Linked DNA regions of Homo sapiens. The protein of the gene in region 1 purifies or fractionates together with the protein of each later gene. This does not show direct contact. Each region holds a gene or a part of one and is shown in the gene's direction. Other genes may lie near its edges.

Region 1 (3,500 bases):
ATGGTCCTTATGGACAGGTCCAGGCTGGGCAGGGTGGCTTACACCTGTAATCTCAGCACTCTGGGAAGTGGAGGAGGATCACTTGAGCCCAGAAGTTTGGAACCAACCTGAGCAACATAGGGAGACCTCGTTTCTACAAGGGAAAAAACTTTAAAAATTATCTGGGCATGTTGGCACACACCTGTAGTCCCAGCTTCTCAGGAGGCTAAGGCAGGAGGATCACTTGAGCCCGGGAGGTTGAGGCTGCAGTGAGCTGTGATCGCGTCACTGCACTCCGCCCTGGGCGACAGAGCAAGACCCAGTCTTTAAAAAAAGAACTGTCCTGGGTGCGTCTAATCGCAAAGTTCCTACCACATAGTGTGCCAGGTATGGCTGCCCAGCAGGGTGAGGTGGCTGAGCCTGGACAAGGAGCCTCTCAGAGCCGTGGTAAAGATTCATAGTGAGGGGACATCCAGAAGCAGTATTGGGATTGCAGGACACAGGATCTGCCTGGACTGTGTACATAGTCAGAGGCTGGCGGGAAATGCATCATGAGGACGATTGTCGTGGAGACTTCAGGCCATGGGATGGGGGTGGATGGAATTATGGGTGAGAATTTATATTTCATTTCAATTAAAAATGGATATAAAGACTTTGCTTCAGGGTGCGGTGGCTCACACCTGTAATCCCAGCACTTTGGGAGGCCAAGGTGGGCGGATCACCTGAGGTCAAGAGTTCGAAACCAGCCTGGCCAACATGGAGAAACCCCTTCTCTACTAAAAATACAGAAATTAGCTGGGGGTGGTGGCGGGCACCTGTAATCCCAGCTACTCAGGAGGCTGAGGCAGGAGAATCGCTTGAACCCGGGAGGCAGAGGTTGCAGTGAGCCAACATTGTGCCACCGCACTCCAGCTTGGGCAACAGAACAAAACTCTGTCTCAAAAAAAAAAAAAAGACTTTGCAGCAACTTAGGCAGGTTTGAAAAGGCAGAAGGAGGAGTAAAGTGCAGCCATGTCTGTGCCCCCTGCGTGGCTTTGTGTGCTCGGGAGCCCCAGGGGGCTCTGTCCTGGCCACCAGCGAGCTTGCACCTGTGTCCTCCAGGTTGTGTCCAAGTACATCGAAAGTCCCGTGTTGTTCCTTCGAGAAGACGTGGGAAAGGTCAAGTTCGACATCCGCTACATCGTGCTGCTGCGGTCAGTGAGGCCCCTACGGTTGTTCGTGTATGATGTGTTCTGGCTGCGGTTCTCCAACCGGTAAGTGGAGGGCCGGCTGGGTCCAGGGTCGGGGAGCTGGGTGACCGGGTGGAGGTAGCGGGTGGGTGATGGGCCCTTTTTGGAATCAGAAAATGTTGTTGGAAGGCACCCTCCATCACTCACCCAGCTAGCGGCCCTTGGAGCCCATCTCCCTTGGTGTTAATTGGCGGTGACTTGCCCTGCCCACCTCAGAGTTCTGGTGTTGCCCACAGTAATGGATGTGAACATTCTTTGTAAAATGGGCACCAACATGAGAACCAGGTGCCATTTTTATGGACCTGCAGAGGCTTCACAGCTAGCACCTCACTCACCTCCACCCCAGCTCAGTGGGGCTGTGGGGCTCCCCCAGCCACACAGACAAGGGAACAGGCTCCCGCCTGAGCAGCAGGTGGTCCTGCCCTGAGCCCTGAACCCCTAGTTGGGAAGGCTGAGTGGGTGGCACCTCCCTCGCAGGGACAAGGCCGCTCAAGAACCCATATGTGTCTGCACACTTGTCTTCCAGGGCCTTTGCACTCAACGACCTGGATGACTACGAGAAGCACTTCACGGTCATGAACTATGACCCGGATGTGGTGCTGAAGCAGGTAGGGCCTGAGGGAGGTGCAGAGCAGGTTCACACAGAGGCCAGGGCACACCCGACCCCACCCCGCCCACACTGCCTCCTAGGAGGACTGGCACACAGGCCAGTCCCAGGAGCCGCCTCCTGAGTTCCTGCTATGGAAGGCGATTGTTAGCGCTGCCATCATGAGCCAGGCTGGGTTCTGTGTTGTCTCAGGTAGGTCTCCCCACGGCACAGAGGGCCACTGGCTGTGTTTGAGATAATGTGGACACAGAGGGGGATGGGTCCAGCAGCAGGTTGAGACAGTGTGTTCCCAGCCGGGGCTTACTCCTCACCACCACTTCAACCGGAAAAGCAGACCACCCTGTGAGTGCCAGGGCAGGCGGGGGCGGGGAGGCCCCACCTGGTCCGGCTGGCTGCTGGCCCGTGACCCTGCCCGGGTCTAGGACCTCCTGTCCTCCCTGGTGCACAGTGTTGAGCGGTGCCCCATGCAGTGGGCACTCAGTGAATGGCAGCTGCACCATCTGAGCACCTGGAGCTCAGGGGCATCTGGACAAAGGCCCTTCCAAGGTGGGGGCGAGAAACCAGAGCTGGCCAGCCAGTGTACGTGGACAGGTAGGCACAGCCTGCACAGAAGCAGGAGGCCAGCTCTGGGTACAGGAAGGAAGAAAGGAAGTCCTGGAAGGCCTCTGTGGCCTGGCTGGTTAATGAGTGTTTCAGATGCACAGAACACCTACCCCACCCTGCCTGTCGCCAGCCTTGCAGGTGCCGCGGACTCCCCATGCAGCCAGCCCCAACGCTCCCCGACCCCTGAACGTGTGGCTGTCATTCCCAGGCATGTCTTTGGTTCTTTTCAGCAGGAGTATGTTCCTGACCATTCAAGCTGCTGTTTTGCTTACTTAGGTTTTTTGTTTTGTTTTGTTTTTTTGAGAGACAATGTCTCACGCTGTCACCCAGGCTGGAGTGCGGAGGCATGATCTGGGCTCACTGCAACCTCAATCTCCTGGGCCCAAGCCATCCTTCTGCCTCAGCCCCCTAAAGTAGCTGGGACTACGGGCACGTGCCTCCACGCCCGGCTAATTTTTTTGTATTTTTAGTAGAGACGGGGTTTCGCCATGTTGCCCAGGCTTGTCTGAAACTCCTGGACTCAAGCGCTCCGCCTGCCTCAGCCTCCTAAAGTGCTGGGATTACAGGCGTGAGCCACCATGCCCGGCCTCCTACTTAGGTTTTTATGTAAATATCATCTTATTCAACGGATCCTTCTGCAGCTTGCTTTGTTGGCTGAGTGGCGTGTTTTGAGGTTTTGAGGTTCGGGCTTGTTGCTAACTGTGGCGGCGATTGGTCATCTGAGGTCTTCACTAATGATAAATCATGGCGCGTGAACATGCGTGGAGGCACCTGGCCATGCCCATGTCCGAGGAGTCCTCTAGGAGGACTTGGAGAAAGGGCCCTGCCATGCACTGGTGACTATACCAGCACACACTCCCCACAGGGGCCGAGTGGTCCTGTTGCTTCTGTCTGTCTTATCCTTGCCTGTGTTGAAGCCTACTCCCTAGGACCCAGACCCCCCAGCAGGGCCCCAGGACATTGTTGGAAGTCGCCCTCAGGTTCTGAGCCCCTCCCTTCTGTACTGTGGGGGTCATCCCGGGAGTCCTCTCCTGGAGCTCTGTGCCTGGGGAGGTACGTCCAGCATGGCATGGATGGCGGGC
Region 2 (2,962 bases), on another chromosome or scaffold:
TCTTTGAACTCATTCAACTCCAGGACATGGAAGAGGCCTCTCTCTGCCCTTTGACTGGAAAGGTCAAGTTTTATTCTGGTGTCTTGGGGAAGCTTTGTTAAATTTTTGTTAATGTGGGTAAATCTGAGTTTAATTCAACTGCTTCCCTACATAGACTAGAGGGCTAAGGATTCTGTCTGCTGCTTTGTTTCTTCTAAGTAGGCATTTAGATCATTCCTATAGGCTTCCTATTTTCACTTTACTGCTCTAATGCTGCTAGTCGTAGTCTTTAGCACACTAGGTGGTATGCCTTTATTAGCATAAAACAAAAAAAACTTTAACAGGAGCTTTTACATATTACTGGGATGGGGGGTGGTTCGGGATGGGTGGGCAGCTGCTGAACCCTTTAGGGCATTTCCTCTGTAATGTGGCGCTTTCAACTGTACTGCTGCAGCTTTAAGTACCTTAAAGCTTCTCCTGTGAACTTCTTAGGGAAATGTTAGGTTCAGAACTAAAGTGTTTTGGGTGGGTTTTGTTGCGGGGGGGAGGGTAACAATGGGTGGTCTTCTGATTTTTATTTTTGAGGTTTTGTCAACTGGAGTACGTAGAGGAACTTTATTTACAGTACTTTGATTTGGCAGGTTTTCTTCTACTTGTGCTCTGCCTGGAGCTGTTTCCATATGATATAAAAAGCAAGTGTAGTATTCCATTACTATGTGGCTTAGGGATTTATTTGTTTTTTAAAATCAACCATGTTAGCTGGGATTAGACTCCCTACAGTCCTTCAATGGAAAAGTAACATTTAAAAATCCTTTGGGTAATTCGAATTACAGATTTAAAAGAGCTTAAGATCTGGTGTTTTGTTAATGCTTCTGTTTATTCCAGAAGCATTAAGGTAACCCATTGCCAAGTATCATTCTTGCAAATTATTCTTTTATATAACTGACCAGTGCTTAATAAAACAAGCAGGTACTTACAAATAATTACTGGCAGTAGGTTATAATTGGTGGTTTAAAAATAACATTGGAATACAGGACTTGTTGCCAATTGGGTAATTTTCATTAGTTGTTTTGTTTGTTTTGATTTGAAACCTGGAAATACAGTAAAATTTGACTGTTTAAAATGTTGGCCAAAAAAATCAAGATTTAATTTTTTTATTTGTACTGAAAAACTAATCATAACTGTTAATTCTCAGCCATCTTTGAAGCTTGAAAGAAGAGTCTTTGGTATTTTGTAAACGTTAGCAGACTTTCCTGCCAGTGTCAGAAAATCCTATTTATGAATCCTGTCGGTATTCCTTGGTATCTGAAAAAAATACCAAATAGTACCATACATGAGTTATTTCTAAGTTTGAAAAATAAAAAGAAATTGCATCACACTAATTACAAAATACAAGTTCTGGAAAAAATATTTTTCTTCATTTTAAAACTTTTTTTTAACTAATAATAGCTTTGAAAGAAGAGGCTTAATTTGGGGGTGGTAACTAAAATCAAAAGAAATGATTGACTTGAGGGTCTCTGTTTGGTAAGAATACATCATTAGCTTAAATAAGCAGCAGAAGGTTAGTTTTAATTATGTAGCTTCTGTTAATATTAAGTGTTTTTTGTCTGTTTTACCTCAATTTGAACAGATAAGTTTGCCTGCATGCTGGACATGCCTCAGAACCCTGAATAGCCCGTACTAGATCTTGGGAACATGGATCTTAGAGTCACTTTGGAATAAGTTCTTATATAAATACCCCCAGCCTTTTGAGAACGGGGCTTGTTAAAGGACGCGTATGTAGGGCCCGTACCTACTGGCAGTTGGGTTCAGGGAAATGGGATTGACTTGGCCTTCAGGCTCCTTTGGTCATAATTTTAAAATATGGGAGTAGAAAACAACAAAGAATGGAATGGACTCTTAAAACAATGAAAGAGCATTTATCGTTTGTCCCTTGAATGTAGAATTTGTTTTTGATTTCATAATTCTGCTGGTAAATGTGACAGTTAAAATGGTGCATTATGTATATATATTATAATTTAGAAATACCATTTTATAATTTTACTATTCCAGGGTGACATAATGCATTTAAATTTGGGATTTGGGTGGAGTATTATGTTTAACTGGAGTTGTCAAGTATGAGTCCCTCAGGAAAAAAAAAAAATTCTGTTTTAAAAAGCAATCTGATTCTTAGCTCTTGAAACTATTGCTACTTAAATTTCCAATAATTAAAAATTTAAAATTTTTAAATTAGAATTGCCAATACTTCTACATTTGAGAAGGGTTTTTTTAGAAATACATTTAGTAAAGTCCCCAAGACATTAGTCTTACATTTAAACTTTTTTCTTTAAAACATGGTTTTGGTGGTTAACTTTTACACAGTTCTGAGTACTGTTAATATCTGGAAAGTATCTTGAGATATCAGTGGAAAGCTAAACAGTCTAAATTAACATGAAATACTTCATTTTGATTGAGAAAATAAAATCAGATTTTTTCAAAGTCAATTTGAATTTTGTCATTTCTTTCTAATAGTTATTTCTTGTTTCATTTTCTTGTTAATGCAAGATGAATTGACAGTTTATGCTAGTTGTTAGGTCAAGTTCATGTCAGTGTTCTATTATTGACAAAACAACTCATTATTTCTGGTATGATTTTATAAATACATAAGAAAATAGAATAGCGATTTATAGCTACATCAGAGGCTGTTTTCTTCCAACAAACTGTTTTGTCTCCCAAAAGATTTAAGGTGGCTTTCACAGAATTAGAAATGCTAAAGAGACCTGTATGTAACATGCCCCCTTTCAAGGACATATTAGCTCATCTGCAGACTTTTAGGCATATTATTTTTAACAAATAAAAGAAGGATGAAAATACATTTAACTGACCTTTTCTTGTTTTATACTAGCCTTGAGGATGAGGGCTGGAGAGTAGAGAGAGTATTTTTGCCTTTCCTTCTTCGTGGACTTGTATGTGCAAACCTCATTGCCCGCTTCAGGGCCGGAGT
Region 3 (3,500 bases), on another chromosome or scaffold:
AAAAAAAATTTTTTTTTAATTAGCTGGGCATGATGGTGCACAACTGTAGTCCCAGCTACTCGGGAGGCTGAGGTGGGAGGATTGCTTGAGCCCAGGACGTTGAGCTGCAGTGAGCTGTGATTGCATCATTGCACTCCAGGGCAACAGAGTGAGACCCTGTCTCAAAAAAAAAAAAAAAAAAATTACAATGAATCCCCTAATCCCCTATACCTCAATCTAGATTTAACAAATGTTAACATTTGGCCATTTGTTTATGTCTTTATAAATATACATTTTTTTTTTTTTTTGAGATGGAGTCTTGGTCTGTCTCCCAGGTTGGGGTGCAGTGGCGCAATCTCGGCTCACTGCAAACTCCACCTCCTGGGTTCAAGCCATTCTCCTGCCTCAGCTTCCAGGAAGCTGGGACTACAGGCATGCACCACCACGTCCAGCTAATTTTTGTATTTTTAGTAGAGTTGGGGTTTCACCATGCCGGCCAGGCTGTTCTGGAACTCCTGACCTTGTGATCTGTCCACCTCAGTCTCCCAAAGTGCTGGGATTACAGACGTGAGCCACCGTGCCTAGCCAAGCGTACATATTTTTCTTCCATATTATCTGAAGGTAAATTATAGACATTAGGATCCTTTACCCCTAGATTCTGCTGCATAACCACAATACCATTAGCACGCTTAATTCCATAATAGTGCCTGGCGTCCAGTTCAAACTCAAATTTCCCTGGTTGTCTCAAGGTTATTTTTTGTAGCTGGTTTCTTTTTTTTCTGAACAAGGATTCAGTAAGTTCACACACTGCATATTGCTGTAGCTCAGCAGTATCCTAAGGTCTAGATTCTAGAATAGTCCCCCATTTCCTTTTGTTTTCCATGACACTGACTTTTTTTTTTTTTTTTTTTGACAGAGGCTTGGCTAGAGTGCAGTGGCACAATCTCGGTTCACTGCAACCTCTGCCTCCCAGGTTCAAGCTATTCTCGTGCCTCGGCCTCCTGAGTAGCTGGGATTACAAGCACCCACCACCACACCCGGCTAATTTTTTTGTATTTTTACTAGAAATGGGGTTTCACCATGTTGCCCAGGCTGGTCTTGAACTCCTGAGCTCAGGGGATCTGCCCTCCTCAGCCTCCCAAAGTGCTAGGATTACAGGTGTGAACCACCACACCCAGCCCTATGACACTGAGTTTTTGAAGAGGCTAGGCTAATTGTATTATAAGATTTCCCACTTTCTGGATTTATTTCTTTATGGGATCGTTAACTCCTTCCTCTAACCATTGGGTTGCCCCACTCTGAGTAGATTAGAGGCTCATTGGCTGCAGGTGAGACAGGGTGGCGACAGTGCCCCATAGCTGCTGTGTACTTGGTGTGGCACCGGCCCAATAAGCGTAATAATGCCAGGTGCTCCTGTTCTCCATCCCCAAAACAATATGGATTCTCATCTCTGATGAAAATATACAAAAGGAAAAGAAATAGGAAGAAACCATTATCGGCAGACCTACAGCTAATAAGTATGCAGGATCTTGGCATTGCATTGCAGATTTCACTGCAGTAGCACGGAGGAGTCTCAGGCCACCCCAGGGTCCACAGCAGGCAGTGATTTGATGTCCTGCCGAGGCATCAGTCCTGGACGCACATGTGAGTTGCAGAGGAGGCACCCAGCTGGTGTGAGCTCCGCCCCTGCCCAGCATTTGACTCAGTTCTCTCTGTATCTTCACATCACACCCAGCAAGTGCTCAGAAAGAGATAAACCATTTGTTTGTTAAGAAACCAAACCAGGCTGGACGCGGTGGCTCACGCCTGTAATCCCAGCACTTTGGGGAGGCCAAGGCGGGCAGATCACCTGAGGTCAGGAATTCAGGACCACCCTGGCCAACATGGTGAAGCCCTGTCTCTACTAAAAATTAGCCAGGTGTGGTGGGCACCTGTAATCCCAGCTACTCAGGAGGCTGAGGCAGGAGAATCGCTTGGACCCGGGAGGCAGAGGTTGCAGTGAGCTGAGATCGCGTCGTTGCACTCCAGCCTGGCGACAGAGTGTGAGACTCCATCTCAAAAACAAACAAACAAACAAAACAGGGCACCAAAATGAAGGTGTGCTGTTTTGCTGGCCTCAGTGGCAGGCACTGGTAGGCCACAGCCATGAAGAACTTGGGGATTTATGAGGCGTTCAGGGCATATCCCTTGTGAGTGACAGGGGTCTGCTCCAGCAATATCAGATGGGCCACCCTGGGAGCCATCTCAAGACCAGAATCAGTCCATTCTTGAGTCTGATGCTAAGTAAGAGATGCTGCCTTTTAAACGCCAAAGGCATTTCACTCTGCCCTGGTTTTATCATGGGCAGTAAAAGGTCAGCAGGAAAGGGTGAGTTTTGAAGAGAACATCTAGCTTTGTTGGAATATGAGCCTTGTGAACTTGCAATGCCCGAGGTAGCCAACTTCAGCAGAAGTGGGAAAGTTTAGGTCCTTGCTACTCAGAGTGGTCCTGTGCTGCCAGCATCGCCAAGCCTGGAGGCTGCTAGAAATGCGGAGAGTCTCAGGCTGCACCTGGACCCCTTGAATTTGAATCTGAGTGTCGACAAGCTTCCCAGGTAATGCATATCCATGTTAAAGTTGGAGACGGCTGTTCCCGGAGTGCTGATTAGTGCCCAGTCTCACTGGACAGTGTCCAAGTCACCAGCCTGCAGAGTGGAGCTGGGTTCTGGTTTCTTTGCGTTCCACCTGCTCCCCATGGTCTGCAGGAGCTGACAGAGCAGAGGTCTGAGGGTGAGCTTGTCTTTGGAGTTTATTCTCACGGATCTTTGGTGCTTCTCCACAGTGTATGGGCTTGGGCCCCCTGCCCCAGAGAGCGACGCTGCGGTGGCCTTGACCCTGCAGCAGGAGTTTGCACGGGTAGGAGCATCGGCACATGATGATAGCCTGGAGGAAAAGGGTTTGTTCTTCTGCCAGATTTGTCAAAAGAACCTCTCAGCCATGAACGTGACCCGAAGGGAACAGCATGTGAACAGGTGGGGGCAGCTTGGGCCGTCGCCTCTCCCGTGTATGTGACCAGAATCCCCAAGCACCCCAGGGCTGGAGTGCGGATCTCCACACCTTACCATGACAACAGCACCTCAGCTTTGTTGTCAACCTACCCCTTTTTAAAAATAACTTCGTTGAGATACAATTCACAGAACATATAGTTCACCCATTTAAACTGAACAAATCACTACTTTTGGGATATTCACACAGTTGGGCAACTGTCACCACAATCACTTCTGGATTATTTTCATCACCCCCAAAAGAATCCCCACACCCATTGGCAGCCACTCCCTATTGCCCCTCTCTCCCCTGACAACCACTAATCAACATTCTGTCTGGATGGATTTGCCGATTCTGAAATTGCACAGTTGTCCTTTTGTGTCTGCCTTCTTTGACTTAATATGTTGTTTTTGAGGTTCATCCATGTTGTAGCATGGAGCAGGCTTCATTCCTTTTTATGGCTGAGCAGTATCTCATTGTATGGCTAGACTGTGTTTT
Region 4 (3,500 bases), on another chromosome or scaffold:
TCTTAAACATCTTGACTTTTAATTGAATCTTACATCTTCTTTAGAAATCATGAGCAAATGTTAACATATTTAGAGATTTTATTTTTGGCTACTTAGCATAAAGCTTTGGTAACTAGGTCAAGGAATCAAATGATAATGTCATTCTGTTAAGTCAATGTTAATATAAATTAGAAGTAAAAACAAAAAATGTATTTTATATAGGGTCACCTGCAGCTAGTCCTCAAAGCAGTGATAATAGCGATACACATCAAAGTGGAGGTAGTGACATTGAAATGGATGAGCAACTTATTAATAGAACCAAACATGTGCAACAACGACTTTCAGACACAGAGGTATGAAAATAGGTTTTTCTTCTTTTATAGGCATTTTTGGCTTTCTGGCGTGTTTATCATTTGAATTGGGTATATATACATAATTCATGTTTGGGCTTGTCCTCTCCTTTACGTAATATTTTTGACATCCTTTGAGTTTTTAATTCCATTTTGTATTGTTCAAAGGAGTATAACAAGACTGGCAGCCTTTTTAAAAAGTACAGTTTATTAATGTTGGTTACCTTTTTTCTTACTGGTTTAAATATTTATTTAAATCTATTTGTTTCAAAATACAGGAATCCATGCAGGGAAGTTCTGACGAAACTGCCAACAGTGGTGAAGATGGAAGCAGTGGTCCTGGTAGCAGTAGTGGGCATAGTGATGGATCTAGCAATGAGGTTAATTCTAGCCACGCAAGCCAGTCAGCTGGGAGCCCTGGCAGTGAGGTACAGTCAGAAGACATTGCAGATATTGAAGCCCTCAAAGAGGAAGATGAAGACGATGATCATGGTCATAATCCTCCCAAAAGCAGTTGTGGTACAGATCTTCGGAATAGAAAGTTAGAGAGTCAAGCAGGCATTTGCCTGGGGGACTCCCAAGGCATGTCAGAAAGAAATGGGACAAGCAGCGGAACAGGAAAGGACCTGGTTTTTAACACTGAATCATTGCCATCAGTAGATAATCGAATGCGAATGCTGGATGCTTGTTCACACTCTGAAGACCCAGAACATGATATTTCAGGGGAAATGAATGCTACTCATATAGCACAAGGGTCTCAGGAGTCTTGTATCACACGAACTGGGGACTTCCTTGGGGAGACTATTGGGAATGAATTATTTAATTGTCGACAATTTATTGGTCCACAGCATCACCACCACCACCACCACCATCACCACCACCACGATGGGTAAGCCTACTTCAAAATAAATATTCAGTTCATATTTCCTTTAGGGAAGTATTATATCCTATATTCAATTTGCAATTTATTCTGTATTAGTGCTATTCATTAGTAGTATAGTGCAAACTATAAATGTAAGCTACAAATAGATAATTTCAAGTTTTCTATTGGGCACATTTAAAAACACAAAATGAAGCAGGTTGTTGGCCATGCACAGTGGCTCACACCTATAATCCCAGCACTTTGGGAGGCCGAGGCAGGTGGATCACTTGAGGTCAGGAGTTTGAGACCAGCCTGAACAACATGGTGAAACCCCATCTCTACTAAAAATAGAAAAATTAGCCGGGCATGGTGGTGCACGCCTGTAATCCCAGCTACTTGGGAGGCTGAGGCAGGAGAATCACTTGAACCTGGGAGGTGGAGGTTGCAGTGAGCTGAGATCACACCACTGCACTCCATCCTGGGCAACAGAGTGAGACTCAAAAGCAAAACGTTGAACAACAACAATAAAAAACCAGGTTGTTAATTTTAATCATGTTAAACCAATAATATCCACAATGCCATTTACACATGTAATAAGTATAAAAATTACTAAGGTATTTCCTTCCTTTTTTTCTTACCAAGTCTTCAATATTTAGTGCATATTTTATACTTATAGCACTTTTCAATTTAGACCAGCCACCCTTTAATTCTTTAAAATATTTATTGATTTATTTGTTTTCTTCTTCTTTTTTTCTTTGAGACAGGGTCTCGCTCTGTTGCCCAGGCCGGAGTGCAGTGGCACGATCTAGGCTCACTGCAACCTCCACTTCCCAGGCTCAAACAATTCTTGTGCCTCAGCCTCCTGAGTAGCTGGAATTACAAGCACCCACCACCATGCCTGGCTACTTTTTTAGTATTTTTAGTAGAGATGGGGTTTCACCGTGTTGACCAGGCTGATCTTGAACTCCTGACCTCAGATGATCTGCCCGCCTCGGCCTCCCAAAGTGCTGGGATCACAGGTGTGAGCCACCAGGCCCGGCCTTTTTTTTTTTTTTTTTTTTTTTTGAGTTGGAATCTCACTCTGTCACCCAGGCTGGAGTGCAGTGGCACAATCTTGGCTCACTGCAACCTCCGTCTCCCAGGTTCAAGCGATTCTTCTGCTTCAGCCTACTGAGCAGCTGGGACTACAGGTGCCCCCCACCCCCCACCCATGCCTGGCTAATTTTTGTATTTTTAGTAGGATGGGGTTTCACCATATTGGCCAGGCTGGTCTTGAACTCCTGACCTTATGATTCGGCCTGCCAAAGTGCTAGGATTGCAGGCGTGAGCCACTGCACCTGGCCTTTTTTTTTTTTTTTTTTTTTTTTTTAAGAGATAGGGTCTCACTTTGTCACCTAGGCTGTAGTGCAGTGATGTGATCATAGCTCACCGTAGTCTCAAACTCTTGGGCTCAAGCAATCCTCCTGCCTCAGCTTTCTGAGCACTTGAGACTTAAGGTGTGTGTTGCCACTCCTAGCTAATTCTTAATTTTTTTTTTTTTTTTTTATAGAGACAGAGTATTGCTATGTTGCCCAGGCTGGTCTTGAACCCCAGACCTCAGTGCTTTTGCCGCAGCCTCCCAAAGCTCTGGGATTACAGGCGTAAGCTACTTATACCCAGCCTAGACCTACCATGTTTTATGTGTGTAATGGTCACATATGGCTAGTTGGTATTATATTGGATAACACAGGATTAGATTTTCAACATCTTGTAATAAATGCCTAAAAAAGATATGAGTGCTTATGGAAACTTTCCTAAATTGTGATTAAGAAAGGGAAATTTTACACATCTAATTTTAGGGTATTTAAAAGGGTAAGCTCCAGCATAAAACTTTTTGGTTATCTGTGAAATATACCAAATAATGTGATTCTGTCACTTAGTGGTGGTATTATGATGGGCAAAATAATTAATTTTTCTTCATTTTTTCAATCTATAAAATGGGAACAATAATCCTAGTGCTTTGGAGGCTAAGGCAGGAGGATCGTTTGAGGCCAGGAGCTTGAGATCAGCCTGAGCAACTTAGTGGGGCCCTGTCTCTACAAAAATATTAAAAACACTAGCCAGGCATGGTATCACACACCTGTAGTTCTAGATAATTGGGAGGCTGAGGTGGAAGGATCGCTTGAGTCCAGGAGATCAAGACTGCAGTGAGTGGTGATTGCACCACTACACTTCAGCCTGGGCAATAGAATGAGACTCTGTCTCTAAAAATAAAATGGGCACAATAGTATCTATCTCATGGTTTTATTGTGAGGATTTCCTGGGCTAAC
Region 5 (3,500 bases), on another chromosome or scaffold:
AAGAAATATGGTATCTTTCAATTTGTATGAATCCCTTTTGAAGGAAATATATTTCAGATTCCAAGTATTGACCTAAGTTATATTCAATCTAATATTACTTAAATTCAATAGTACTCTTAAATAATTGTGAAACTCAGTAGATTTACTCTTTAAATACAATTAAGTCTACAAAAATCCCCAAACTCACATTAGCAACATTATATTGATGTGAAACAATCTAATTTGCTGTTATCAGTTTACTGTAGTTTAAACTACAAGGACATTTATTATTGATAGGATGTTCCAGGGTTCATTCAGTTGCTAAACAATTTCATTCAGGACCCAGGCTGTTTGCATCCTTTCTTTTGCCATCCTTAGAATGGTGGCTTTTCCTTCTCTTGCTTGTCACCTTATGGTTGCAGGATGGCTGCTGCCACTCTACTTCTATCTTATCTTTACAAATAAAAAGAAGCGGGGGCCAAAGTCCTTTCCTAGCTAAGCTTGTCTTTTAATTTTTTCCCAGAAATGCAAGCTCCCCAACAGATTTTTCCCTTAAGTCTTATTGTCCAGAACTGTTCACATACCCATCCTAAAACCAATCACTGGCAGTAGGGAATGGGATTAACTATGACTGGTTTAGACCAATTTTGATTCATTCCCTTGGACTGGAGGAGAGACAACAAGAGATCTCCACTAGCTGCTCAAACAAAAGTATTACAATTCTGTTAGGGAAGAGAGAGTGGGAAGTGGGCAGGTAATGTCTGGAATAGAGAATAAACAGCATCTGGCCCAAATCCTGAGGTTAACAAGTGGAGAAGCCTAATCTTCTGATTTCAACTTCCCTACTGTTTTCATTGCAGTGTAAGTATAGGAAGTAATAATCCCACCCCCAACTCCCCTGCCCCTTATTGCCAGATTTCAGCCCCTTGACATTCATTTCAGAACTTCTGAGTAAAAGTCCGTTTTTCCATTGTTGCTTATTGCCAGCAAATCTATTTCTTCTTAGTATCTCCAAAATTGGGTAATTTGCTCTTTTGTTTTATTTTAAACCTAATGAGCCTTCCATGTTATGCTACTTGATGTCAGATTTCAGAAAACATCTCTAGTTGTTTGGGAAAGACTGTTTCCTTCAAACTACAAAATAGTTTTTTTTTTTTTAAGAGAAGAAACTTTTAATTAATAGTTCTATTAAGAGGGTGGCCACACTTAGATATTCTTCAAATACAATATTGATTACAAGTTACAGGTATATTCTACCAATATATTTTGAAGATTGAATAAGAGATTATATTGAAAATTCCAATCATTTCAAACCACACCGGAAGACCGAAGTTGTTTACTTATCAGTCCTTTTCCTATATGCTTCTGTGTGTGTTTTTGGCCATAGACTTTTTCCAGGTTTAAGTAGACATCCTCTCTCTGCCACTAACAAGTTGTATGACTCTGGTCAGTTTCTCTTCCTGGGCCTCGTTATCATGGAAAGAAAGAACGCTTTGGCACCTGACGTACTTGTTTAAATCCAAGCTCCCCAGCCTGGGCAACATAGGAAAAACTTGTCTGTACTAAAACAAAACAAAACAACCAGGCATGGTGGTGCGCACCTGTTAGTCCCAGCTACTTGAGAGACTGAGATGGGAGAATCACTTGAGCCTGGGAGTTTGAGGTTGCAGTGTGCTGTGATCGTGCCACTGCACTCCAGCCTGGGAGACAGAATGAGACCCTATCTCTAAAAATAGTAATTATAAAATAAAAAGTCAAATCCAAGCTCCGGTGCTACCAAAAATGGCTCTGGGAAAGTTATTTAGTATTTCTGAGTCACCTTAAAATGAGAATACTTTAATGGTACTGTTCAAAACCATGCTTGGTACGTAATAAACACCTAGTTGTTTCCTTTCATAAAGTAAGATTTGAGTTAGATGATCTCTAACAGCATGATTCATGATGTAGTTTTTAGAATCCTGAAGTCTGCTGCTTAATGGCATGCCTTGGAGTAAGGAACACTTCAGACCTACCACAACCCTCAGCCAGCCATCTGGTTGCTTTCTTTTCATTCTCTTCAAAGTACTGCTAATAAGGACATTTTAAAAACAGTGGTGCCTTGATTTAAATAGCTGGCTGCAATTAAACTTCAGTATTTAGCCTCCACTACCAGACTCCTAGACTTTGACAGAATTTGTGACAACAAGTGATTAAGACTGCTACTGTGCCCATTCATGACTCATCAATAACTCTCTTAACAGACTTAAGCAGCCTAGATGTTGATGTGTTATTCCTATTTAGATTTGAGACATTCATGTAAAAACATACAACTTACATTTCTTGGTTATTGTTCTCTAGGCAAGGAAGGTTTTTCCTCCTTCCCTTTCTCCCCTTTCTCTCCTTCCTCCTGGCTTTCCTTAGGATTTGATCATATAATTTTGTTGGTTTTGGTCATTATCTCCTAGTAGGCATATCACATTGTAGACAAGCAGAACATTCTCTATTCTCCTTAGTCCTCTGAATTGTAATTATTGGTCAACTGTGTATTCCTCAAAACTGTTGAGGTTCATAAGGGTAGGAATTGTGTCTGAATTTTGCTGGTGCTTAGAATGCTGTCTCCTTTAGTGCTAACTGAACGAGAAACCCAAATCCTGGCCTATTTAACCCCGTTCTATAAGAACAACGTTATTTCCCCATCAGTTCCCTTAAGATGGTATAACTAGGGCTATACTGCCTTTCTCCTAAAAGCGGTTATACTTCATAGAATAATAGAATCTCTATTTCAATACCAGCTTTTAGGTAAAATGTATTGTGTTTACAATATGTTACTTTGAGATTTAAAATAATTATATGGTCGAAACTCTTGTAATAGGTCTTGTAATAGGCTTGTAATAGGTCTCATGATATGTACAGATTCAGGCTTGTTACTTTTATTTTATCAAAATTTGACAATTTATGTCTTCCTCTTTGATTCCCCAAACCTGAAAGCAAGTCCACTATTATAAGACAGCAAATGTCAATTAGCAATTATTTTCACACTAGCCTTATTTTATAGTATTCAATTTTTCTGCCCTTGCCCAATTTATCACTTATTCTCTAAGAGCGAAGACTATTTTCCAAGCACCTTCACCAAGTTTAGGGACCAGAGCAAGTGGTCCACCATTAAAGGCTAGTGTTAAAAGCGCTCCAAAGTCATGTCCTAAGCAGTGGTAATTTCCTAAGTGTTTCTTGCACTTAACAATTGCCAAGTTTATTTTGTTGGCAATGCCTTCCATTTTCTTCACTTTTTTTTTTTTTTTTTTTTTTTTTGAGACGGAGTCTCGCTTTGTCGCCCAGGTCGGACTGCGGACTGCAGTGGCGCAATCTCGGCTCACTGCAAGCTCCGCTTCCCGGGTTCACGCCATTCTCCTGCCTCAGCCTCCCGAGTAGCTGGGACTACAGGCGCCTGCCACCGCGCCCGGCTAATTTTTTTTTTGTATTTTTAGTAGAGACGGGGTTTCACCTTGTTAGCCAGGATGGTCTCGATCTCCTGACCTCATGAT
Region 6 (3,500 bases), on another chromosome or scaffold:
GAGGTGATACATAGCTTTGGATGCAAAGAGCCAAACCTGGAAATGGTCAGCCTTTGAATGCCTGTTAACTTTGTTTCCTAAATTTTTTTTTTTTTATGAGACAGTGTCTCACTATGTTGCCGAGGCTGCTCTTGAACTCTTGGGCTCAGGTGATCTTCCTGCCTCAGCCTCCCGAGTAGCTGGGACTACAGGTGCACACTACCATGCTGGGCTTATTTTTTCTAGGGTTGGCAACAATTAAAATAATACATTATTTAAGGTTTAGATTTTCCTCCTATTTGTAATCATTTGTTGAAATCATCACTTTTTCAATAAGCTATGTTAGATATCTTTCAGGGAACTAATTACCATTTTATATTGTATTATAGGTTGGGGGGTTACATATTGGTTGTGAAGTAGATAGTGGGCTCCTTCAGGTTGTTTACCTATTTCAATTTTTAGCTCCCCAGCATACTGCGTTTGATGAAAGTTTTTAAATATTCGTTGAATTAACATTCGTATTCACTAATACGGCTTAAACTTGTAAGATGTGCTAAAATAAGTACTGTATATTCTTGGCTGTTCTTATTAATTTGGTTTTAGAAAAATGGAGAAGTGAAAGAACATTTTTCTTTTTTATTTTTTTTGAGACAGAGTCTCGCTTTGTTGCCCAGGCTGGAGTGCAGTGGCGCGATCTCGGTTCACTGCAACCTCCACCTTCCCGGGTTCATGCCATTCTCCTGTCTCAGCCTCCCAAGTAGCTGGGACTATAGGCGCCCGCCACCATGCCTGGCTAATTTTTTTGTATTTTTAGTAGAGATGGGGGTTTTACCGTGTTAGTCAGGATGGTCTCGATCTCCTGACCTCGTGATCCGCCCACCTTGGCCTCCCAAAGTGCTGGGATTACAAGCGCGAGCCACCACACCCGGCCAAAAGAACATTTTTCATTTGCTTTAAAAATATATAGCAATATAAATCCTAAAAATGAAGAGAGTCTGTTTTAAATTGACAGTTCAGTGGCTTTTATATTGTCTGATACTGTTACTTGTTTCTCTTTCAGAGTTAGAATTGAAAAAGTAAGTAGACAATGCTAGCACCTTCTAAGTTCTTATATTTAAAAGGATTAATGTTGTCAAACTGACATGGTGACTCCCATGTAGTCATCTTGCAGCTTCAATAGTTATAGTCTTTCTTAACACTTAAAAAAACTTAATTTCTTAAGATATCAAATATTGAGCCAGTATTTATTTCCGTGATCATTTCACTTTTTTAGAAGCCATTTGTTTGAATCAGGATCCAAGTAAAGTTCATTTATTGCAATTGATTACTATGTAAATAAAGTTCCTTTACATCTATGGGTGCCATCTGTCTTTTATTTTAAATGTATTCTTTGAAAAAATCAAATTGGTTGTTCCAAAGAAATTCTTATTCTAGACCAGGAATTTCTCCTACTTTCTGGTTTGAGGATCTCTTTACTCTTAAAAATTGAAGATTCTAAATCTTTTGTTTATGTGGGTTATATCTACCGCTAGTTACTACATTGGAAATTAAAACACTTAAAAATTTATTTAATAATTATTTGTTTTAAAACTATAATACTAAATCGATTCATGTTAAATAATATTTTAAAAATTTTTAATTAAGGCCAGGTATGGTGGTGCATGCCTGTAATCCCAGCACTTTGGGAGACTGAGGCAGGCAGATCACATGAGGTCAGGAGTTTGAGACCAGCCTGGGCAACATGGCAAAACCATGTCAGTACTAAAAATTTAAAAATTAGCCAGACGTGGTGGTGCACATCTGTAATCCCAGCTACTTGGGAGGCTGAGGCACAAGAATCACTTGAACCCGGGAAGCGGAGGTTGCAGTGAGCTGAGATTACTCCAAGCCTGGGTGACAGACTGTATCTCAAAAAAAAAAAGATTTTTAAAATTACAAATGGACACATTGTAATTGTATGTATTTATGGGATACAGTTTGATGTTTTGATAGATGTATATGTTGGTCTAATGATCAAATAAGGGTAGTTAGTATCCATTACCTCATGCAATTATCGTAACATAACATTTTTAATGAAAACCAATTATATTTGCTAAAAAATACCAGGGAAAGGAGTGATTATTTTACATTTTTCCAGATCTTTATAAGATCTCTCTTAATAGAAGCCTGCTGAATTCTCGTGTCTTTTTCTGCATTCAGTCTTGCTGTATCACATGACCTCTGCAAAACAACACTGTACGCTTGTGAGAGAATGAGAGTGAAAAAAGGCAAATAATAGATGAGCATTCTTGTGAAAGTAGTTCTGACTTAATTGACCCCATGAAAGTGTCTTGACCCCCTGGAATCCACAGACTGTTGGCTGAGAAGTGGACCATTTTCTGAATATTGATAATTAGATCAAGAGACTAGGATACATTGCTTTGCCTTAAGCAGACATATCCCTCTAAAATATTAATTCCCCAGAAAAGCAGAAACTGAATTTATAAAATTTCCCTTTGGCCCGTAACGTAATTTTATTTAGGTTCTCTTTCCTGTGACGTTAAGGTTTTTTAAAAAAAGTTGTTGATTTGATGTTTTTACATCTGATTCAACAAATTATCTCTACATTTCTTATAAAAATAAAAGTGTGTTCCTACATTAAACAAACAATCTGTAATTTTACAGGCTTTTTTTCTTGATAAAATAAATTTTTCATTCAAAATGTACAAGTAGAAGTTTCTTCTGTTGGTTTTCTGGCCGGGCGCAGTGGCTCATGCCTGTAATCCCAGCCAGCACTTTGGGAGGCTGAGGCGGGTGGATTGTTTGAGGCCAGGAGTTTGAGACCAGCCTGGGTAACGTGGCAAAACCCTGTCTCTACTAAAAATACAAAAATTAACAGGGTGTGGTGGTGCATGACTGTAGTCCCAGCTACCCAGGAGGCTGAGGTAGGAGGATTGCTTGAGTCTGGAGGCAGAGGTTGCAATGAGCCATGATCTGACCAGTGCAGTCTGGCCTGGGCAACAGAGTGAGACCCTGTCACAAAAAATACAAGAAGTTTCTTCTATTAGGTTTCTTTATTCAAGAAATACTTGTTGACCTCCTTACTGTCTTAGTGAACAAGGATGATTGAGCAGATAAAGGGACATACAGCTGTGTTCATGGAGCTTACATATCAGCCAGGCAAATGGACTTTGCCAAACTAGTAACTGCACAGTAATACAAAGGAGAAATGTAATTGGGAACCTATCCTAGTTTATGGAATCAGGGAAGGGTCCTTTGGTTTAAGATTTGAAGTATATGTAGAATTTACTAGGAGCTGTACCAAGAATATAGACATAGGTTTTAGCTGTTGTAATCATTTGAATGTGGTGTTATGTAGAACAGCATTATTTGACTTTTCAAATTGAACATTTCTGTTCATAAGTCCTTTCTGGAGGTAGACAGGATAATACACATTTAGATAAACTTTTATTTATTTATTTATTTTTTTGAGACAGGGTCTTACTCTCTCACCCAGGCTAGAGTGCAGTGGCATGATCTCA
Region 7 (4,269 bases), on another chromosome or scaffold:
CTTTATAAAAAGAAGTCTAAAACTTTTTTAAAATTAGTTTTATATTTTTAAAATGTAATCTCTTAGGCTTATAATCTAAAGTTTTAAAATTAGGCATGCTTTAATGTAACCTCATTCTAGAGCAGTAGTTATTTTTAAATTATATTCTAAAGTATTTCTTTATTGTAACAAAATTATGTTGTTTTCACAGGCCTTGCAGTTGAAATTCAGCCATAAAGAAAATGAAGTGATTTAAAATTGCAAATTTTTGTTACTTCAGTAGTTGTTAATATATAATTTTATTAAAAAGGTTTATTGAAAATCGTGAGGCACTTTATTGTATGGATGCCTTTAAACTTAGTAGACAAAGGTTTCTTTTTTTCTTAATCGAGAAACTTTCAATATTTTACAGTAGTTTGAATTACTGCTAACTCTAACATACTGCTTGTTTTATTATCTTTAAAAATTGAATGTGCATATCCTTGATATGAAGAAAATCTCATCAGGCAATTGACCCCAAATATGTCAGGGTATCTAAATTTTTGTCACTTGTAGTAATTTACATTTTTTTTCCTGTCCTTAGATATATTATTGTGTATTGAAGGAAGTATTCATGATTAAATTATTCACAGTTACTTGATGAAAGTATTCGTCAGAGTTTTCATGGCTGGTGTTATTTTAAATTTTAAGCGTATGTTGGATTGTGAAGATAGGAGAATAGGAACAAGACTTAAAAAGCTTGGAATTGGGGTCTCATGATGCTTGAGCTTTTGTACCCATTTTACTGTTTACTAAATCATTTATTATATTTAATAATTGTCAGAATATTAAGATAACTTGATTTTTAGATATCTAACTTTATGTTTTGTTTGTTTGTATAGGAAATGTTTTTCTAAAACATGGTTCAGAACTGCGGATTATTCCTAGAGATCGTGTTGGAAGTTGTTAATATCTGCTACTTGGAACATACGATTGCCTTTCAGAATAAATATTGGTATTTTTTGTTGTTGTAAAATTGAAATCAGGCATTTAACATACTATGAAAACACCAGGAGTCAATGATTAATGAAAGGTGACTCATCTGTCCCTTTTTGTTGTCCATACTCTTCCTATGAAGAGGGAATGCGTATGAATTAAGGCTACTACTGTCACAGAAGATCATAGTCTTTGATGCTACCTCACAACACAAACAGGTAGTTCGTTGGGGGCAAATGAATTAGCCAACTGTTAACTGGAAGCTTTTGATAATTTTTTTTTTTAGAACAATTTGGAACATTAAAATTTACTGAATCGTATATATTCATCTGAGATAAAAATATAAAAAGAATTATGGACCCTGGATGGCAATTTGCTTGATAGCATCTGATTTGCAGACTCATAATTTGATTTTTAATTAAATATATAGGTTGTGATGAAGTGAATAGACATATCAGTGAACAGTTAACTATATTAAATTTTTATCATTTACTTTTTTTAAGATTCAGACCTCAGTTATATAAATTTCAGTTTAATATCAACCAAAAAATTAAAATTTTAATCTAACCCTTATGTGTATAAATTGGTGTCCCATACCAGCTTTTAATGGTGGACCTATAGAATCCAGTACTTTTAATGGTGGGAATTTACAGTAGAAGCATCCTTTGCTGAGTTATACATTCCTTTATCAATCTCTTTTGATACAACATTTAAAACAAGTAGCTTCAAGAAACCACTGGTGTTTTGAGGATAGTATTTCTAAATAGCATTCAGGAACAGAGTATTATTGCACAGATCTGAAGATCAAAAAAAAGCTCAAGGAAATACAGATCGGAAGTGCTGATGAGTTATATTTATTGAAAACCCAACTTTTAAGGAAGTGCTAAGATCAGTCACCCATGTGAATAAGAAGCCAGGAAAGGAAAGATGGGGAAGCCCAGATCACCAGGCTTCTATTAAGGAGGAAAGCAACAGAGGAAACAGTGAAGGGGAACAGAAGGGGGTAGCAAAGTGTTACAGAAAAGCGGACTGGATAGACAAAACTGCAGAAGGTGTATGTTGGGGAGAACTGAAAGGGAAAACAAAATACTTGACATAGTCTTAAGTAGAAGAAGGCAGTTAGAGAAAACAAAGTATCTACTGGCCTTGTCAACATACAGACTTCAAAATACCCCTTATGAGAATCCAAAGAATGATGTGTGTAAGGGAAGATTTTATTTGCCCTTCCGGAAGAAATCAGTATCTATGCAAATCTTGAAAGACGAAATCAAAGCCCATTAATGATTCAGAATCAGTGCTTGACCTCCTGTATTCTGAATGGTGAACTCTGGAAGCAGGGATTGTGTCTGGCTCTTTTTAGAGCTGGAAATGTAGTGGCTTTCATTAAATACTTGCTGTAAAGTCTTTCTAAGACCAATTATTATCTTAGCATGTTTCAGTATCTTCTCTATCATAGGCCCTAAGTTCATTGGGGGAAAAAAAATAAGAAGATTCAACAGAATCAGCATTTGAAGTGTACCATTGGTAGTTGTTTATGAAATTACCAGATATTCATAAATGTGACAAATGAACAGCAGGATTATGAATTATCAAAGGAAAAAGTATTTGCTGAGGTGAAAAAATCTGATGTTTGAGGAAGTTTTTATTTTTATTTATTTGTTTTGTTTTTTTTTTTTTGAGGCAGACTCTCTGTCGCCAGGCTTCTCCTGCCTCAGCCTCACGAGTAGCTGGGACTACAGGCATGCACCACCACGCCCAGCTAATTTTTGTATTTTTAGCAGAGACAGGGAGGAAGTTTTTATTTTTATAAACAAAATCTGATGTTCAGAGGCCCCGTTTCTTACAATAAATGTTGAGTCTTAGTTAAGCAGGAATTTATGAACACCCATTTCCTGACTTTTTGCTTTAATTTAGATTTTTCTCCATCCTGTTTCTAGCACAAAAATTTGCCTGCTGTGTTACAAAAATAAATTTATGTTGTCCTGTGCCATAAAGTGATATATTTAATATTTTTATTCTTTGGTTTTGAACATTGTAAGTTCCTAAAAACATTTTATTAAACAAGTAGACATTTTGTTATTAAAAAAATGTGATCTGTAATTTCTTTGTGCAGAATGATTTGAAGTATTGTATTCAGTTTACATGCGTTATTGGTTTATAATTAATATCTAATGAAAATACATGTTGTTATATTGTAAACCATATTGTCTGTTCTTATTATTAGAGCTCTTAATCAGCACACCTTTTGAGTCAGTATATAATACATGTAGTAAAGAAAAAAAGGGCAAAGATGATTAATGACCATAAGTCAGAGAAATTAGTTTATAGTCATCTGCCACAGACATAGTAGTGATGTTTCGTCCAACAACAGACCGCATATATGACCGTGGTCCCATATTACTATATTTTTACTGTGCTTTATCTATGTTTGGATACACAAGTACTTACCATCATTTTACAGTTGTTTACAGTATTAGGTACAGTAACATGCTCTACAGGTTTGTAGCCTAGGAGCAATAGGCCATACCAAATAGCCTAAGTTTGTAGTAGGTGACATCAACTAGGTTTGTACAAGTACATTCTGATGTTCACATAGTGACAAAATTGCCTAAGGAAGCATTTCTCAGAATTTGTTCCTGTGATTCAGTGATACATAACAGTACTTGCAAATGCCTGTCCATTTTACAGACGGAAAAAAAAAAAAAAAAAGTTGAGAAGAAAATGGGGTTATTGTAACTGGCTAGGTTGGTAGGTTCCAAACCTGGGTGATAACAGAGTCGCCTAGGAAATTAAAAATACAGATTTTTGGAAACCACTCCTTGAATTCTGATTTATTACATCTGTAATAATATATAAAGATCCTCTGTAAACAGGAGTTCTGGTGATTTCTGCCATGCAGGTGGTTTGAGAATTAATGAGAAGGCCACCTTTTCACTTTGTAGAAGAACAGAATGAGGTCTAAGGGGTCAAAGTAAGTAGAATATGTTCTGGAATCTTGGACAGTGCACTTTCCAATGCTTGGTAAGTAGCCTGAGGTGAAGGTGCTAGCTAACAGTCTCACTCACTGCACAACCTTTGAAGTTTTTCTCCGGGAGGTGGGGGGCAGCCCCCGCCCGGCCAGCCGCCCCGTCTGGGAGGTGGGGGGCAGCCCCCGCCCGGCCGCTGCCCCGTCTGGGAGGTGGGGGGCGCCTCTGCCCGGCCGCCCAGTCTGGGAAGTGAGGAGCCCCTCTGCCCGGCCGCCACCCCGTCTGGGAGGTGTACCCAACAGCTCATTGAGAACGGGCCATGATGACGATGGCGGTATTGTCGAATAGA

What was found.
Region 2: the proteins of TTLL12 (region 1) and ACTR2 fractionate together in Homo sapiens (co-fractionation; one large-scale study listed by BioGRID). This does not show direct contact.
Region 3: the proteins of TTLL12 (region 1) and SLX4 purify together in Homo sapiens (co-immunoprecipitation; one large-scale study listed by IntAct). This does not show direct contact.
Region 4: the proteins of TTLL12 (region 1) and USP34 fractionate together in Homo sapiens (co-fractionation; one large-scale study listed by BioGRID). This does not show direct contact.
Region 5: the proteins of TTLL12 (region 1) and PPME1 fractionate together in Homo sapiens (co-fractionation; one large-scale study listed by BioGRID). This does not show direct contact.
Region 6: the proteins of TTLL12 (region 1) and RPRD1A fractionate together in Homo sapiens (co-fractionation; one large-scale study listed by BioGRID). This does not show direct contact.
Region 7: the proteins of TTLL12 (region 1) and UFM1 fractionate together in Homo sapiens (co-fractionation; one large-scale study listed by BioGRID). This does not show direct contact.

Annotation. Positions count from the first base shown.
Region 1 is NC_000022.11:43,170,135-43,173,634, reverse strand, and holds part of TTLL12 (tubulin--tyrosine ligase-like protein 12), read left to right. Parts: intron 1-1,080; coding exon 1,081-1,232; intron 1,233-1,734; coding exon 1,735-1,816; intron 1,817-3,500. UniProt on the Homo sapiens protein: Negatively regulates post-translational modifications of tubulin, including detyrosination of the C-terminus and polyglutamylation of glutamate residues. Also, indirectly promotes histone H4 trimethylation at 'Lys-20' (H4K20me3).
Region 2 is NC_000002.12:65,268,792-65,271,753, forward strand, and holds the end of ACTR2 (actin-related protein 2), read left to right. Parts: 3' UTR 1-2,462; downstream 2,463-2,962. UniProt on the Homo sapiens protein: ATP-binding component of the Arp2/3 complex, a multiprotein complex that mediates actin polymerization upon stimulation by nucleation-promoting factor (NPF).
Region 3 is NC_000016.10:3,601,607-3,605,106, reverse strand, and holds part of SLX4 (structure-specific endonuclease subunit SLX4), read left to right. Parts: intron 1-2,799; coding exon 2,800-2,989; intron 2,990-3,500. UniProt on the Homo sapiens protein: Regulatory subunit that interacts with and increases the activity of different structure-specific endonucleases.
Region 4 is NC_000002.12:61,345,588-61,349,087, reverse strand, and holds part of USP34 (ubiquitin carboxyl-terminal hydrolase 34), read left to right. Parts: intron 1-201; coding exon 202-332; intron 333-607; coding exon 608-1,218; intron 1,219-3,500. UniProt on the Homo sapiens protein: Ubiquitin hydrolase that can remove conjugated ubiquitin from AXIN1 and AXIN2, thereby acting as a regulator of Wnt signaling pathway.
Region 5 is NC_000011.10:74,177,789-74,181,288, forward strand, and holds part of PPME1 (protein phosphatase methylesterase 1), read left to right. Parts: intron 1-3,500. UniProt on the Homo sapiens protein: Demethylates proteins that have been reversibly carboxymethylated. Demethylates PPP2CB (in vitro) and PPP2CA. Binding to PPP2CA displaces the manganese ion and inactivates the enzyme.
Region 6 is NC_000018.10:36,057,560-36,061,059, reverse strand, and holds part of RPRD1A (regulation of nuclear pre-mRNA domain-containing protein 1A), read left to right. Parts: intron 1-3,500. UniProt on the Homo sapiens protein: Interacts with phosphorylated C-terminal heptapeptide repeat domain (CTD) of the largest RNA polymerase II subunit POLR2A, and participates in dephosphorylation of the CTD by RPAP2.
Region 7 is NC_000013.11:38,359,851-38,364,119, forward strand, and holds the end of UFM1 (ubiquitin-fold modifier 1), read left to right. Parts: intron 1-190; coding exon of another isoform or gene 191-216; exon of another isoform or gene 217-860; coding exon 861-928; 3' UTR 929-3,769; downstream 3,770-4,269. UniProt on the Homo sapiens protein: Ubiquitin-like modifier which can be covalently attached via an isopeptide bond to lysine residues of substrate proteins as a monomer or a lysine-linked polymer.